2 linked regions of the Homo sapiens genome follow. The protein of the gene in region 2 interacts with the protein of the main gene of each other region in a pairwise test. Each region holds a gene or a part of one and is shown on either strand. Other genes may lie near its edges.

The links.
Region 1: the proteins of HMBOX1 (region 2) and UBE2Z interact in binary tests that used the Homo sapiens proteins (3 or more experiments, as listed by UniProt).

What each region holds. Positions count from the first base shown.
Region 1 is NC_000017.11:48,903,818-48,911,406, forward strand, and holds the start of UBE2Z (ubiquitin-conjugating enzyme E2 Z), read left to right. Parts: upstream 1-4,589; 5' UTR 4,590-4,686; coding exon 4,687-5,003; intron 5,004-5,121; exon of another isoform or gene 5,122-5,166; intron 5,167-6,990; coding exon 6,991-7,063; intron 7,064-7,589. UniProt on the Homo sapiens protein: Catalyzes the covalent attachment of ubiquitin to other proteins. Specific substrate for UBA6, not charged with ubiquitin by UBE1. May be involved in apoptosis regulation.
Region 2 is NC_000008.11:29,047,395-29,053,784, reverse strand, and holds the end of HMBOX1 (homeobox-containing protein 1), read right to left. Parts: coding exon 6,332-6,390; intron 4,832-6,331; coding exon 4,737-4,831; intron 4,496-4,736; coding exon of another isoform or gene 4,400-4,495; exon of another isoform or gene 4,391-4,399; intron 3,584-4,390; coding exon of another isoform or gene 3,557-3,583; exon of another isoform or gene 3,399-3,556; intron 2,768-3,398; coding exon 2,630-2,767; 3' UTR 523-2,629; downstream 1-522. UniProt on the Homo sapiens protein: Binds directly to 5'-TTAGGG-3' repeats in telomeric DNA. Associates with the telomerase complex at sites of active telomere processing and positively regulates telomere elongation.

The DNA of each region.
Region 1 (7,589 bases), on a different chromosome or scaffold from region 2:
GATTCTCCTGCCTCAGCCTCCCAAGTAGCTGGGATTACAGGTGCCCACCACCACGCCCAGCTAATTTTTGTATTTTTAGTAGAGATGGGGTTTCACCATGTTGGCCAGGCTGGTCTCAAACTCCTGACCTCAAGTGATCCGTGCACCTCAGCCTCCCAAAGTGCTGGGATTATAGGCATGCGCTTTGCAATCTCAGCTCACTGCAACCTCCACCTCCCGGGTTCAAGCAATTCTCCTGCTTCAGCCTCCCGAGTTGCTGGGACTACAGGCGCGTGCCACCACGCCCAGCTAATTTTTGTATTTTTAGTAGAGATGGGGTTTCACCATGTTGGCCAGGATGGTCTCGATCTCTTGACCTCATGATCCACCCACTTCAGCCTCCCAAAGTGCTGGGATTACAGGCATGAGCCACCGCACCCAGCTGGCAACCACTGTTAACATTTTCTTGGGTATCCTCTTTTTTTTTTTTTTTTTTTGAGACAGTCTCACTCTGTTGCCCAGGTTGGAGTGAAACAACACGATCTCAGCTCACTGCAACCTCTGCCTCCCAAGTTCAAGCAATTCTCCTGCCTCAGCAGGAGTAGCTGGGATTACAGGCGCCTGCTGCCATGACCAGCTAATTTTTGTATTTTTAGTTTAGACGAGGTTTCACCATGTTGGCTAGGCTGGTCTCGAACTCCTGACCTCAGGTGATCCACCTCAGCCTCCCAAAGTACTGGGAGTACAGGATGAGCCACCACTCCCGGCCTTGTGTATCCTTTTATAGATATTCTGGCATCTTTATTATGCTGATAAAACACTATACCAACAAAACGCAAAATCTGCATAAAATACTATATTGATTCATTTCATTTCATGTTGCGCCTAAGCTGTGCCATGCCCTGTGCTGGATTCACATATAATACATTGTCTAGAGCCCCAAGGGTGTACACGTTGTGTGCGTATGTGTGTTAAGAGGGGATGGGGATGCTTATACCTGTAATCCCAGCACTTGGGAGGCTGAGTGGGGTGGATCACTTGAGATTAGGAGTTCGAGACCAGCATGGCCAACAGGGCGAAACCCAGTCTCTATTAAAAATATAAAAAGCAGCTGGGCATGGTGGCCCACACTTTACAAAAACTTCTGGAAATGTCATAGTTAATCCTCTGGGAAACTTTGAGAGGTAGGAATTACTGAAAATACAAAATTAGCCGGACGTGGTGTAGTCCCAACTACTCAGGAGGCTGAGGCACAAGAATCCCTTGAAACTGGGAGGCAGGGTTGCAGTGAGCTGAGATCAGGCCACCGCACTCCAGTCTGGGTGACAGAGCAAGACTCCCTCTCACAGAAAAAAAAAAGGGGGGGGGGTGGGGGCAACAGGTACCAAGGGACCATAATTAGTACAAGGTAAAATATAAGTGTGGGAGTGTCACGTAGTGGTTAGCACTTGTTCTCAGAAGTCAGATTTGGTTTACAGTCCCAATTATGCGACTTGCTCTCAGCATGACCCCATGTAATTCACTGAACCTCTGTAAGTCTGTTTTTCCATCTATCAGACCAGATTAATAATAGTACCTAAGGCCAGGTGCGGTGGCTTACGCCTGTAATCCCAGCACTTTGGGAGGCCAAGGCGGATGGATCATAAGGTCAGGAGTTCAAGACCATCCTGGCTAACACAGTGAAACCCCATCTCTACAAAAAATATAAAAAATTAGCCAGGCGTGGTGGTGGGCGCCTGTAGTCCAGCTACTTGGGAGGCTAGGGCAGGAGAATGGTGTAAACCTTGGAGGTGGAGCTTGCAGTGAGCCGAGATCGCGCCACTGCACTCCAGCCTGGGCGACAGAGCAAGACTCCAAACCAAAAAAAAAATAAAAATAAATAAATAATAGTACCTACTACTTCACTGAGTGTTGAAAGGAATAAAGCCAAAGTATACAAAATGCCTGCCACATATTAAACACTCAATAAATGTCTGCTAAAAAAATAATTTTTTAGGCCAAGCACGGTGGCTGACGCCTGTAATCCCGAGCACTTTAGGAGGCCAAGGCGGAAGGACTGCTTGAGCCCAGAAGTTCGAGACCAACCTGGGCAACATGGTGAAACCTCGCTTCTACAGAAAAATACAAAAATTAGCCGGGCATCGTGGCACGTGTCTGTAATCCCAGCTACTTGGAGGGCTGAGGCAGAGGTTGCAGTGAGTTGTGATCCCATCACTGCACTCCAGTCTGGGTGACAGAGCAAGACCCTGTCTCAAAACAAATCAATCTTTAGCTCTCCATAAATCTTGGTCATTATCCTTCAGGTCTGCATTCCATTACTGTAAATTCATAAAACTCTAAAAGGCAGGAAGGGTGGGGTGGGTGGATGACTTCTGTAATCCCAGCACTTTGGGAGACCGAGAAGGGCGGATGACTTGATCCAACTCCAAAAGGAGTTGGAGACCTTCCTGGCCAACATGGTGAAACCTCGCCTCTACTAAAAAAATACAAAAAATTAGCCAGGCGTAGAGGCGCCTCTACTAAAAAAATACAAAAAATTAGCCAGGCATAGAGGCATGCTTGTAATCTCAGCTACTGGGGAGGCTGAGGCAGGAGAATTGTTTGAACCCAGGAGGCGGAGATTGCAGTGAGCCACGATTGCGCCATTGCACTCCAGCCTGCGTGACAAGAGCAAGATTCCCTCTTTAAAAACAAAAAACAAAAAACAAAAAAACTCTAAAGCCAGACTCTTTTTTTTGAGACGGAGTCTCACTCTTTTACCCAGGATGGAGTGCAGTGACTCAGTCTCGGCTCACTGCAACTTCTCCTTCCCGGGTTCAAGTGATTCTTCTGTCTCAGCCTCCTGAGTAGTTGGGACTACAGGCGCCTGCCAACACACCCGGCTAATTTTTGTATTTTTAGTAGAGACGGGGTTTCACCATATTGGTCAAGCTGGTCTCGAACTCCTTACCTCAGGTGATCCACCCACCTCGGCCTCCCAAATTGTTGGGATTACAGACGTGAGCCACCGTGCCCGGCCCAGACTTCTTTTTTAAAAAACCAAACTTGGTGGCAAAACATCCAAAGTGAGGCTATTCATTTGACTTGGTACGAATGTTCATACACTTTGATGCAGAAATGTCAATAGGTTTGGCTACCCGGCGCTGCCCCACTCCTTGCTTGGTGTGTCATTCCAAAGTCTGAAATACATCTGGCCCCACTGGTTTCCAGTTAATATTGATCCTATATTTTTGCTAGGGAAAAAAGTTTTTGTTTTTGTTTTGAGACGGAGTCTTGCTCTGTCGCCCAGGCTGGAGTGCAGTGGCACGATCTCCGCCCACTGCAAGCTCCGCCTCCCGGGTTCACGCCATTCTCCTGCCTCAGCCTTCCGAGTAGCTGGGACTACAGGCGCCCGCCACCACGCCCGGCTAATTTTTTGTATTTTTAGTAGAGACGGGGTTTCACAGTGTTAGCCAGGATGGTCTTGATCTCCTGACCTAGTGATCCGCCCGCCTCAGCCTCCCAAAGTGCTGGGATTACAGGCATGAGCCACCGCGCCCGGCAAGGAAAAACAGTTTTTTAGGAAGGCCCCTGTCATTCTTAGTCCATAGGAATTTTTTTTTTTTTTTTTGAGACGGAGTCTGGCTCTGTCGCCCAGGCTGGAGTGCAGTGGCGTGATCTCAACTCACTGCAAACTCCGCCTCCCGGGTTCAAGTGATCCACCTGCCTAAGCCTCCTGAGTAGCTGGGACTACAGGTGCACGCCACCACGCCCGGCTAATTTTTGTATTTTTAATAGAGGCGGGGTTTCACCATGTTAGGCTGGTCTCGAACTCCTAACCTCGTGATTCGCCCACCTCGGCCTCCCAAAGTGCTGGGATTACAGGCGTGAGCCACCGAGCCTGGCAGATTATTTTTCACTTTAAACATTTTAGGAAAGACCCAAAGAATCCTCAGGGTTTACACTCACAGTACCTCGATTCCTGTATATTCCAAGATTTGTGGGAAGAAAAAGTACTAAGCTTGGAGTCAGGAGGCCTGATGTTTCTTCCTTTCACCAAGCTTCTCTAGTTCTGTTTCATTATCCCCATGGCAACAACTAGCAACAGTGACTGGCATTTAGTAGGCCCTTCATAAATATATGTTGAATAAACTCTAAAAGAGGTAGCTTTTCATTCCAAGTTGAGTTCTCTCTTGGTCCTGTTGCAGGCAAGGGCAATGGTACCCTGCCCTAGGTGCACAAGTGTGCAGGAGGGATCAATCGCAGAGCCTTTCCGAGAGAAGGGGCCCAAAGCGAGTCAACTTCTCTACTGAGCTTCCCATGAGGATGCTGGATCCCCAATCCTAACCATGCAGACGTCTGAGGGTCGCCGCCATTAACGGGAATGATATGGCCCTTCCTCCCCCACTCCCTCCTCTCTTCTCCCCTTTCAACACTTGAATTGGGCTCTCCGCTACTTCCGCACAGCGCAGGACCCACACGAGCCCAGAACCATCACGGCCTGCTAGTTCCCACCCCTCCCGTCCTGGAGGACCGTAGGTGGACGCTCTTGCAGAGCGCCTCTCGCTGGTTGGGGCGGGGGTGGGCGGAGCCAGCACCGTCTGGGCTGTGGAAGCGGAGGGGGTGGGGACACTCTGGCCCGGTTCTCGGTGGTGCGGGAGCGGGCGGGAGCAGCGGCCGCTCTGGTCGGCGGACGTGCTGCCGAGTAGTCCCGGAAGCGAAGCAGCGATGGCGGAGAGTCCGACTGAGGAGGCGGCAACGGCGGGCGCCGGGGCGGCGGGCCCCGGGGCGAGCAGCGTTGCTGGTGTTGTTGGCGTTAGCGGCAGCGGCGGCGGGTTCGGGCCGCCTTTCCTGCCGGATGTGTGGGCGGCGGCGGCGGCAGCGGGCGGGGCCGGGGGCCCGGGGAGCGGCCTGGCTCCGCTGCCCGGGCTCCCGCCCTCAGCCGCTGCCCACGGGGCCGCGCTGCTTAGCCACTGGGACCCCACGCTCAGCTCCGACTGGGACGGCGAGCGCACCGCGCCGCAGTGTCTACTCCGGATCAAGCGGTGAGCCGGGGTTTTTCCTCCCCCAGCCCCGAGCTCCGGGGCTCGACCTTCCCCGCCCCCCACCCTCTCCCACTACAACTCACCCCCCACCCACTGCGCTGCCCTCGCGGCGGCCCACCTCCACGGCCCAAATCTTGCCAGCTCCGGGCGTCGGGATCCAACTCCCTTCTCCCCCCACCCTCAGACCCGCAAGCACCAACCCCCGCCTCGTGTGCCCAGATCCGACCCCGCCCCTCGACAACCTCCCGTGAGCCCTCCGTCTCCATTCCGGCCACCCTCCCCCACACCTCCCACCTCCGGGTGGAAACCCGACCCTTTAGCGCTTCAGTAACGCCCCCTCCCGCCTTCGGCGCCGCCCCTATTTCCCCTTCCCCACCCCAACCTTGCTAGATGCTGCCCGCAGGCCCCACCCATCGGTCCCCTCTCTTCTCCTCTGGAGCCCCGTTCCTAACACAGACGAACTCAGCTTCCTTTGCCATGCCTCTGACTCGAGCCAACCTTTCTTTTTATCCTCCGTTTTTCTCAGATTCCCTCCACACAGTCTTTTCCCAGGTCTAGATCGCTTCCCTCGCCCCAATCTTTCCTTGAACCCCTTTTCCAGTGTCCCAAAGCTGTCCACTCTTACGCCTCTTCCAGAAACACAGGCTACCTCCCCCCAATTCCCCAGTGCCACTCTGGATTGTAATATCCCACTCAGGAGCTTCTTTCTTGTAATTTCCCTCCCCCCACCCCCCACCCTCCCCGGGTCGTCTGTTTTACTTCTATGAAGCAAATATACTCATCAAATATAGGAACAAAGGCCTAAGTCCTTTCTGTGCTTATTTCTTGGGTGACTGATCTTAGATCCTATCATTTAGTAGATGATGTTTTCCAGAAGCACATAGAATAGTACCTATCGCATAAGAAAAGGGCAGTGCTCTTTAGCTATTAATCCTGAAACCTGTTTGACTTCTCCCCATGCCCCCATCACAAGCATCTTCGTTTAGTTCTTATTCCCCATGTTCCACGTCCTTTCAGATGTCTCTGTGTCTACTTTTCAAGGTTGTAATAAAAATTAATATAATGTGTGTAAAGTACCTGGCACAGTGCCTGACACAGGAGGTCAACTGTGGAGGGATTGCCACCTCTAACTGAAACTCAGCACTCAACTCTTTTCCTCCTCCAGCCATTTCAGTCATCCAATTCTGACATACCTTTGAGTTTGGCCAATGCTTTCCTCTGCTTTGTCGCCTATTTGCCCTTTTTATGTCCCTACCCACCCTAGCAAGTCCCTAGGCTTTTCGCCACCTAGAATGTTCTTTAGCCCCTTGCTCTCAACTGATCCATTCCAGTTGGTGAGATATGAGTCAGAAATCTTATCTCCTATGGAAGTCCACATGTCATCTTCCAGATGGGAGATTCTTAGCAATTTCTGAGGATCCCTCCCCAGCCTGAAGAGATCTCTACCCTGAGACACCCCTGGGCAAGAAGGCCACCATGATAGTCTTACTCTCTGCTGGCTGGCTTGCTTCATACAATCCCCTTACCAATAAAGGTCCACTGTATAGTTTATAGAATTAGTTTTTTAGTGGAGTTGATGATGCCTTTCCAGTTACTAAAAAATCTTCATTTAGCATTCAGTCGTAGTACCTGGGAATCATGGAGGTGGGGAGTGAATGAATTGCCATGTGGGAGGAAGTGAGAGTAAGTGGAAAGTGGCTTTTCCAGGCTGACATTTGATGCCATTGGGATCTCTGATTTTTTTCCTCTCTCCCTCCCCTCCCCCTGAGGAAACAATGCCCTTTTGATAATAATTTGCTCTCTGCCTGCCTGACAAGTACTCAGCTGAGATTTCTCAGCCAACAAGACAGTACAAACACTTGCGGTACCAAGCACCACTTTCTCAAACCCTGGCCTCATTGAGGTGATAACAACTGTCCTGCTCAAGGGATTCCCCCTTTCCCCCTCTTCCTCACTCCTTCCCCCACCTCCTCTTGGTGTTATACAGGGATATCATGTCCATTTATAAGGAGCCTCCTCCAGGAATGTTCGTTGTACCTGATACTGTTGACATGACTAAGGTATGTAACTTGATGGGGGTTTGGGGGGTTTTGGGAAATTGGGGGCCATAAGGTTGCAAAAGCCTAAAAGAGATTATTCAGCTCACCTCTCCGATTACACAGATGAAGAAATCAAGACCCCAGGAGAGTAAGTGGCTTGTCCAAGGTCACATAGTGAGGTGGAGCAGCACTTTGAAGAGGTGTCTGTTATTAGTGTACCCCATAGGTACTGATTGGCTTGGAAAATCCCAGTTCATGTCTGTTGTCGCAGCTTGACTATTTATAGGGCATTCTTTCACTCTCAAAAATGCTCCTGTTTGGATAATAAATTATATGGTCACCCTATCCATTGTACTACCCAGCTCTTCCCCCATCCCGTTACTCTTGACATTAACTATGCTATGGTACTATAAATCAGATGTAGGGAAGGTTGGGAATAGGGCAAGCTTGACTGAAGTGTTTGTGGTTAAAGGACTTTGCTCAGGATCCTGTCCTTACTGGTTGCGTTTAAGTATCCCTTCCACCCCAAAGACTATACCTCTCTTGT
Region 2 (6,390 bases):
CTTGCCTTTATTCTCTGAAGCTTTTTTTCTCCCTTAAAGGTGTTAAAACAATGAAACCTTTGAGTGCATCCACGGCAATCTTTGTATTTCTTTAGAAACTGCAGCTGTCTTAACAGTTTGAGTCAGTCTGTTCCTTTAAAAAGACCAGCAAGTACAAATGATACTAGCAATCCCATGATAAAGAAGCTATCAATTATAATAATCCCCTTACAATCAATCATGGATGTGGCTTGTCAGAGCGGATTTTTTCTCTGTCTCCTTGTACTTTCTGATTCAATTGAGAATAAGCGTCAAAATTCCACAAAAATGGGACTATGTTACATTTCCTCTAAGCAAAATAAAAGGAAAGGAAGAGAACGTAATCTCCTAATTGAAATAAAAAGATAAACCAAAAAAGAATATGAGTCGGTGGGGGGGGGGCGGTGGGAGGCTCATTCCTGAGAATAACAAATGCTACTCTTGAATTTGTTGGTTCAAGTAATACAGTAAAACAGAAGAGACGGCTCCACTTCACTTCAATGCTTGGAAGCTGAAAAAAGTACATATATTTTTTCCCCCTGAAATCCATGGACAAAAGTGGGACCAGGCCCTGCATATAGCTCTTTAAAGTCACAGACATATATAAGGTGGCACTTTCATGCCCTCTCAAAGACTTTCCTCACACTCACATAAGCAGGATTAACAGATAAGGAAATGATGCAGTCAGCGTGTGCCTTAAGTGGAAGGAAACCAACTACAAACTGGCGGATATTCAGTATCTCCTGAATGAGAAAGGGAAAACTGAGGAAGGTCATTCAGTCTCTCTCTCTCACAGTTTTAAGTTGAATACATTTGGTGGAGGAGGATGGGTGAAGAGGTAAGGAAATGGCACCTTCCTTTTATCTTAGAAATTGTTTTCAGGTAACGGACAAAAAGAAGCCGTGCTTAACATCCAGCCCCACATGCCCCTTTAAACAAGGCTTCATTATACATAGGAGAGATGGAGCGAGGCAGAAAATCCACAGCAGTTGTGCCTCTTTCAGGCGCACCCTGTGCTGCTACATTGAAGGCTCTTTCCTCTTACCCACAGTGACAGTGTGTCATTTAATCGGGATGCCAAGAGATCATTTTCATACAAGGCCAGCAGATGTAATTTTCTTTGATGCATGAATAGTTCATCATTTTGCTACTAGATGACAAGGTGATCACAGGGTGACTTTAGAATGCAAGTTCACTGTTTGGTATTTTGAGTTCTCAAAATGAAAAAAAGATTTATCAAATATAAATATCTTTAAAAAGTAACAAAAGTGCTACATATGTGATCAAGGAAAAAAATTCCATTAGTTACTGCCGCTTAAAGTAGATTAAACTTTACAAATATTACCACATCCATTATCAATATGGCTTCCAATTATTAAATAAATTGCCTGTAGCAATACAGCTTTTCACACCTCTCCAAGGACAGAGTAAAGAGAACAGCAAAGCAGTCCCATCGTGTTCTCATACAGCCACAATGTGAGTAGGAAACGTCCCCTGCTTTTCTCTGCTCCTATCTGGGCAAGTGTCTGCATCTGTGATAAGCAGCACAACCCCACTATGAAGTCCTCTAGTGACCTCTCAGAGTGAGGGGGCTTCCGTTTAATGGATACAAACACTGCAAGTTTTTTCACTCATTTTTGACCTTAGCTCCATCCTTGAAAGACTTTTTTGGTAGCAGGGAAAGGGGACACTGACAGGAGGCAAAGCAACTTCCACGATGACCTCCAAAACTTTTCCAGGCAGGCACTGCTAACTGTGCCGTGGAATGTACAGTGGTTCTGAAAACTGGACTTAGCATCCATTAGACATTCAGCTCATATTTTTTTTTTCCAATGCTCTCAAGCTGGGTTTTTTTTTTTTTTTTTTTTAATGACTTTTGGTTTTTGTCTTTGTTTTTAATCATGGTCCCAAAGGCAGAAGGCAGTATTTTATCTACTAAGTCACACAGCTTGTGAGAGGAAAGGATGTCTGTGTCAGGCATGTTAACTTCAAACAAAATCTGAGATCGGCTTTTTCCATTGACATTCTTAGCACAGCACCCAAAGAAGTATAATCTAGCCACAGTGTGGCTATAATGAGGCACGGCTTATTGCAGCTGGAAATCAATTATCCTCACGCTGAGGTGGGGATTCTAGTGTTCCTTTGACTCTGTGGATACTCCCCAAATGGTGTCTGTCATTCCTGTGCCACGACCTCAGCTTGCATCCTATCAGTCTTGGGGAAGGAAAAGGGAGTACAGACTAGTGTTACAAGAATCTAAAGGTACCCAAGATTTTACACGTAGTCTAATATTTGAGAACTGAGGGCTATCTAAATACCTGGAAGCACTTTCTTGGAATGCTAAGACGGAGCAGCAAGATTTTCTAGCCTCGGGGGCTGGGAGAGGGAAGTTTGGTTGGTTGGTTGGTTATTATTTACTGGGAGTTAATACTGAGAGAGTATATGCAAAGGCTGAGGGCACCATGCCATCTTCACAGAACAAGACCCTAACAGCTACCTGACATACAAGAAACTGCAAGTTATACTGTAAGAACACATGTTAAGGACCGAGGAAAGTCTGCTAAGGTGCTACGTCTAAACTAAGTTAACTTGTCATGTTTAACCTCCCTGATCAGTCATCATCCAGGGCCTCTGTCTTGATTTCGTTGGCTCCTTGTCGGGCCAATGCCAAGATAGTGTGGTTGACTGCTGCCATTTCCACAGCTAATGAGATGGGGTCTTGGTGGTCACTATGGCTCGTACTGTCATCCTAGATGTGCAGAAATAAGAAATGTTATTAGTGGATTGGAAGAATTCTTTAGTCACAGAGAGACATGCTGGGGCAAGGGGAGGCAGAACATTCGTGGGAGGAAACTGGGGGAGGGGCTCATGATAAAATAGAGGTAAATTGTATTTAAGTAGACACTGAATGGATATAGGTCCAAAGATTTTCAGTTGATAATCTTATGATTCAACAAGTAAAAAGCACAAAAAATGTTTTTCATCACTGAGAATTCTATTCATTCTATTAATAAGATTGCTGGTGATGATGATCAAACCTGCAGTGATTGATATAAAACCAACAATTTGGATCTTTCTGTTTGTAACAAATATAGCACTAATCACTGAAGGCCATACTAGTGAGCTATTAAATTCCAGATTGCTGCTCTTACAAATAGATTATTAGAATTCATGGTCCCTCTCTGAACTGAGAAAACTAGACAGAACTTACAATTACATCTTACAGATAAAAAATGCATTTTTGTAAAAAAAGAAAAAAAGAATTCTCCATTACAACAGGACACATGTCACTGCCAGAAACGGCTACGGGAGAAAGGGGAGGAAGGTGTCGAGCTCTCCTGCTGCAGGCAGCTGTGCAAGGGGAGCGGCAGGCGTCTTACCTAGAACTAGTGTGAAGCTGTCCTCCCCGCGCAGCTCAATGTGTTAAACAATAAAGCTGTGAAGGAAGCTGGCATTGCAGGATGTACGTCAGGCACTGAAGATGGTGTTACAAATAAGGGGTATGTTTCTCACCTGTCATCTTCAGGGGAACTCCGTATCAAAGAGCTTTGGAAAGGGTAAGTCCCTTAAGGAAAAAAACAAACAAAACATGGAATGTGCTGCCCTTAGGGCATCTGTAAAAAAAGATGGAAATGATCCATCTATGTGGGTAGACTGAAAAGAGGAATGTTTCCGAACAGAAAGACTTACAGAATATTCTCTTGGGGCTATTAACTAGAGTCCTAAATGGGAAAAAATGGTAGTTCTTCAGAAGTGTGGACATCATTGTTTCCTTCTGATGTTCACAGATTAGTTTTTAGAATTTACAAAGGGATCAGCACACACTTGCATGCATTCTAGGTGTGTGGTAAACAGAGGCTATTAAAGAACACATTGGACTATATGAGCTGGCTGAGGAGCAAGAAAAAAGCACAGACCCCAGAAAAATGAGCAGAAGTTTTCTTGCTGTGGTCTAGGGGAAGGTACCATGCGTTCTCTGCATATTCCAAATGGAAATTTAAATCCTATCAAAATTTTAATGAAATCTGTCAACATCTATGTGGGGGTCGAGGAGGGACTCCCACAGTCTTAGTTACTGAATTACTCCACGCAGTGGCTACAATTAAATACATTTTCCCCAAAAGCAATGCAGAATAAATCAGGGCGAGGTGAAGAGTCATGCAGGTATTGCACTTATGAGAGGATGCATGTGTCAGTGTGCCAGAGACTCTGGAAGAACCACTCCTTTGGGCAGGAGGGTTCCCACTGCAGTGGGGCCAGAGTGAGTGGGGCCTTCCATCGTGCCCTGCGTCGGTACGTGTTTAGGCATGGGGTCCAGCTGCCCCTAGTATTTCTCAAACACTGAGTGTGTGTCGTGAATGGTGTAACTTGCTTGTTTGGATCAGATCCTCCTCTCTTCTTCTACCTTCTCTGCTTCTCTGCCTCCCTCTGAACTTCTTCCCTCCTCCTCCTCCCCATTGCGTACTTGCCAAGTATCCTGTTGTATGACAATAAATCCATGTGGGTGAATAACGATCTCTCACAAATTCAACAGGACAACTGAATCTTACCACATTCCTTTCAAATTACATGAAATCTAACTAGACACAGGAGCAGAGTGGAGGGACAGTGACTGTTTCCCCTCCCCCACCCCATCAGCCACACCCAAGGAACTAAGCTGTCCCACTATACCCCCTGCTCAGGCACCAAGAACCTCGCCCAGCTGCGCAGGGGCTCACCTGCTCAGAGTAGTCATTCCCGTCGACATCATCACTGTTTGAGTGGCCTCCTGGACTCTGCACATCTATCCCATGACTCTCCAGGATTGCTGCTTCTTCGAAAAAAGCAAATAGATCCCTAAATTATCTGTTACCTTATCACAATGGCTGAAACACTGAATGAATTTTTGTGCTAAGGAAATTAATTAGAATGTAATTAAACAAGAACCTGTATTTCTCTACATTTGTTTCTTTTAGACTGTAAGATGGATGAAATTCAACTGCATGTAGGTCAGGGGAGGCACACATTTGCCATTCTGGGGTCTCTGCTGCTGTGCATGTTAGGTGCTTCATAAATACTTGCTAACTAACTAAACAGTCTTCCTATCTTGGGGTTCTATAGAGCATATGAGAACTGTACTGATGAATAAAAAGTGTATTTACAAAGGAAGGAAATGAAATGCATTCTATGCCCATACCACGCTCAATGCGCCCGATCTCGTCTGATCTTGGAAGCTAAGCAGGGTCAGGCCTGGTTAGTACTTGGATGGAAGAAATGAAATGCAATTTTAGAAGCTAAAAACCAACATCCCACCTGACTCACCAACTTAAATTTCTTATTCTTATTTATTACTGTTACAGTTTTGAATGGGAACAAATCCTTTATTTCTTCCTTTTTCAGTTGTATTCGTAGTTCCCTCTAGGGCACTTTTGGCATTTTTGTTTTCTCTGTTCAGCTTTATTGAAATATAATTAATAAAAATTGTATATATTTATGGTGTACAAGGTGATGTTTTGATATGTGTATATATACATAAATGATTACATCAAGAATCCATATTTCTTAAATGCTCTTTATCTCTGCCTTTTGCTGCGTTCCTTGTCTATTAAGTCTCTTTCATTCCAAACCATTAATCAATTGTTTCCTAATATTTAAGTCATAGTCCAGTAATAATGAAGAAATTCTGGGTATTACATTCCCTTTCTCAAGATCTTACAAGTATCTTTCAAATGTACCACAGGAGTAATCAATTGCTCAGGGGCCATGTCTAATTCTATATTCTAGAACTTTAAGAAGAATGAGTTTTATAAATAATAATGTCATTACCATTACACTACAAATAGTGTAAATAATACTAACTGTGGTTTATTAAAAACACAATGAAAGACATTAGGGCAACTTTTGTTAGGCTTAGAAGTTAGGATCCGGCACGGTGGCTCACACCTGTAATCCCAGCATTTTGGGAGGCCGAGGCGGACGGATCACCTGAGGTCGGGAGTTCGAGACCAGCCTGACCAACATAGAGACACCCCATCTCTACTAAAAATACAAAATTAGCCAGGTGTGGTGGCACATGCCTATAATCCCAGCTACTCGGGAGGCTGAGGCAGGAGAACCACTTGAACCCAGGAGGCAGAGGTTGCAGTCAGCCAACATCGCGCCACTGCACTCCAGCCTGGGCAACAAGAGTGAAACTCCGTCTCAAAAAAAAAAAAAAAAAAAAGAGAAGTTAGGATCCTTTAGACTTGCAGTTTCTAAACTGAAGTTAATCTTAATATAAACATGACGTTCACAACTGCTGCACAAGAGAAAAGCAGCCTCACTGATACATTACCAATATTGGCTCTCCTCTTGATCTCCTTCCTTCTGTTAGCAAACCAATTATATACTTTC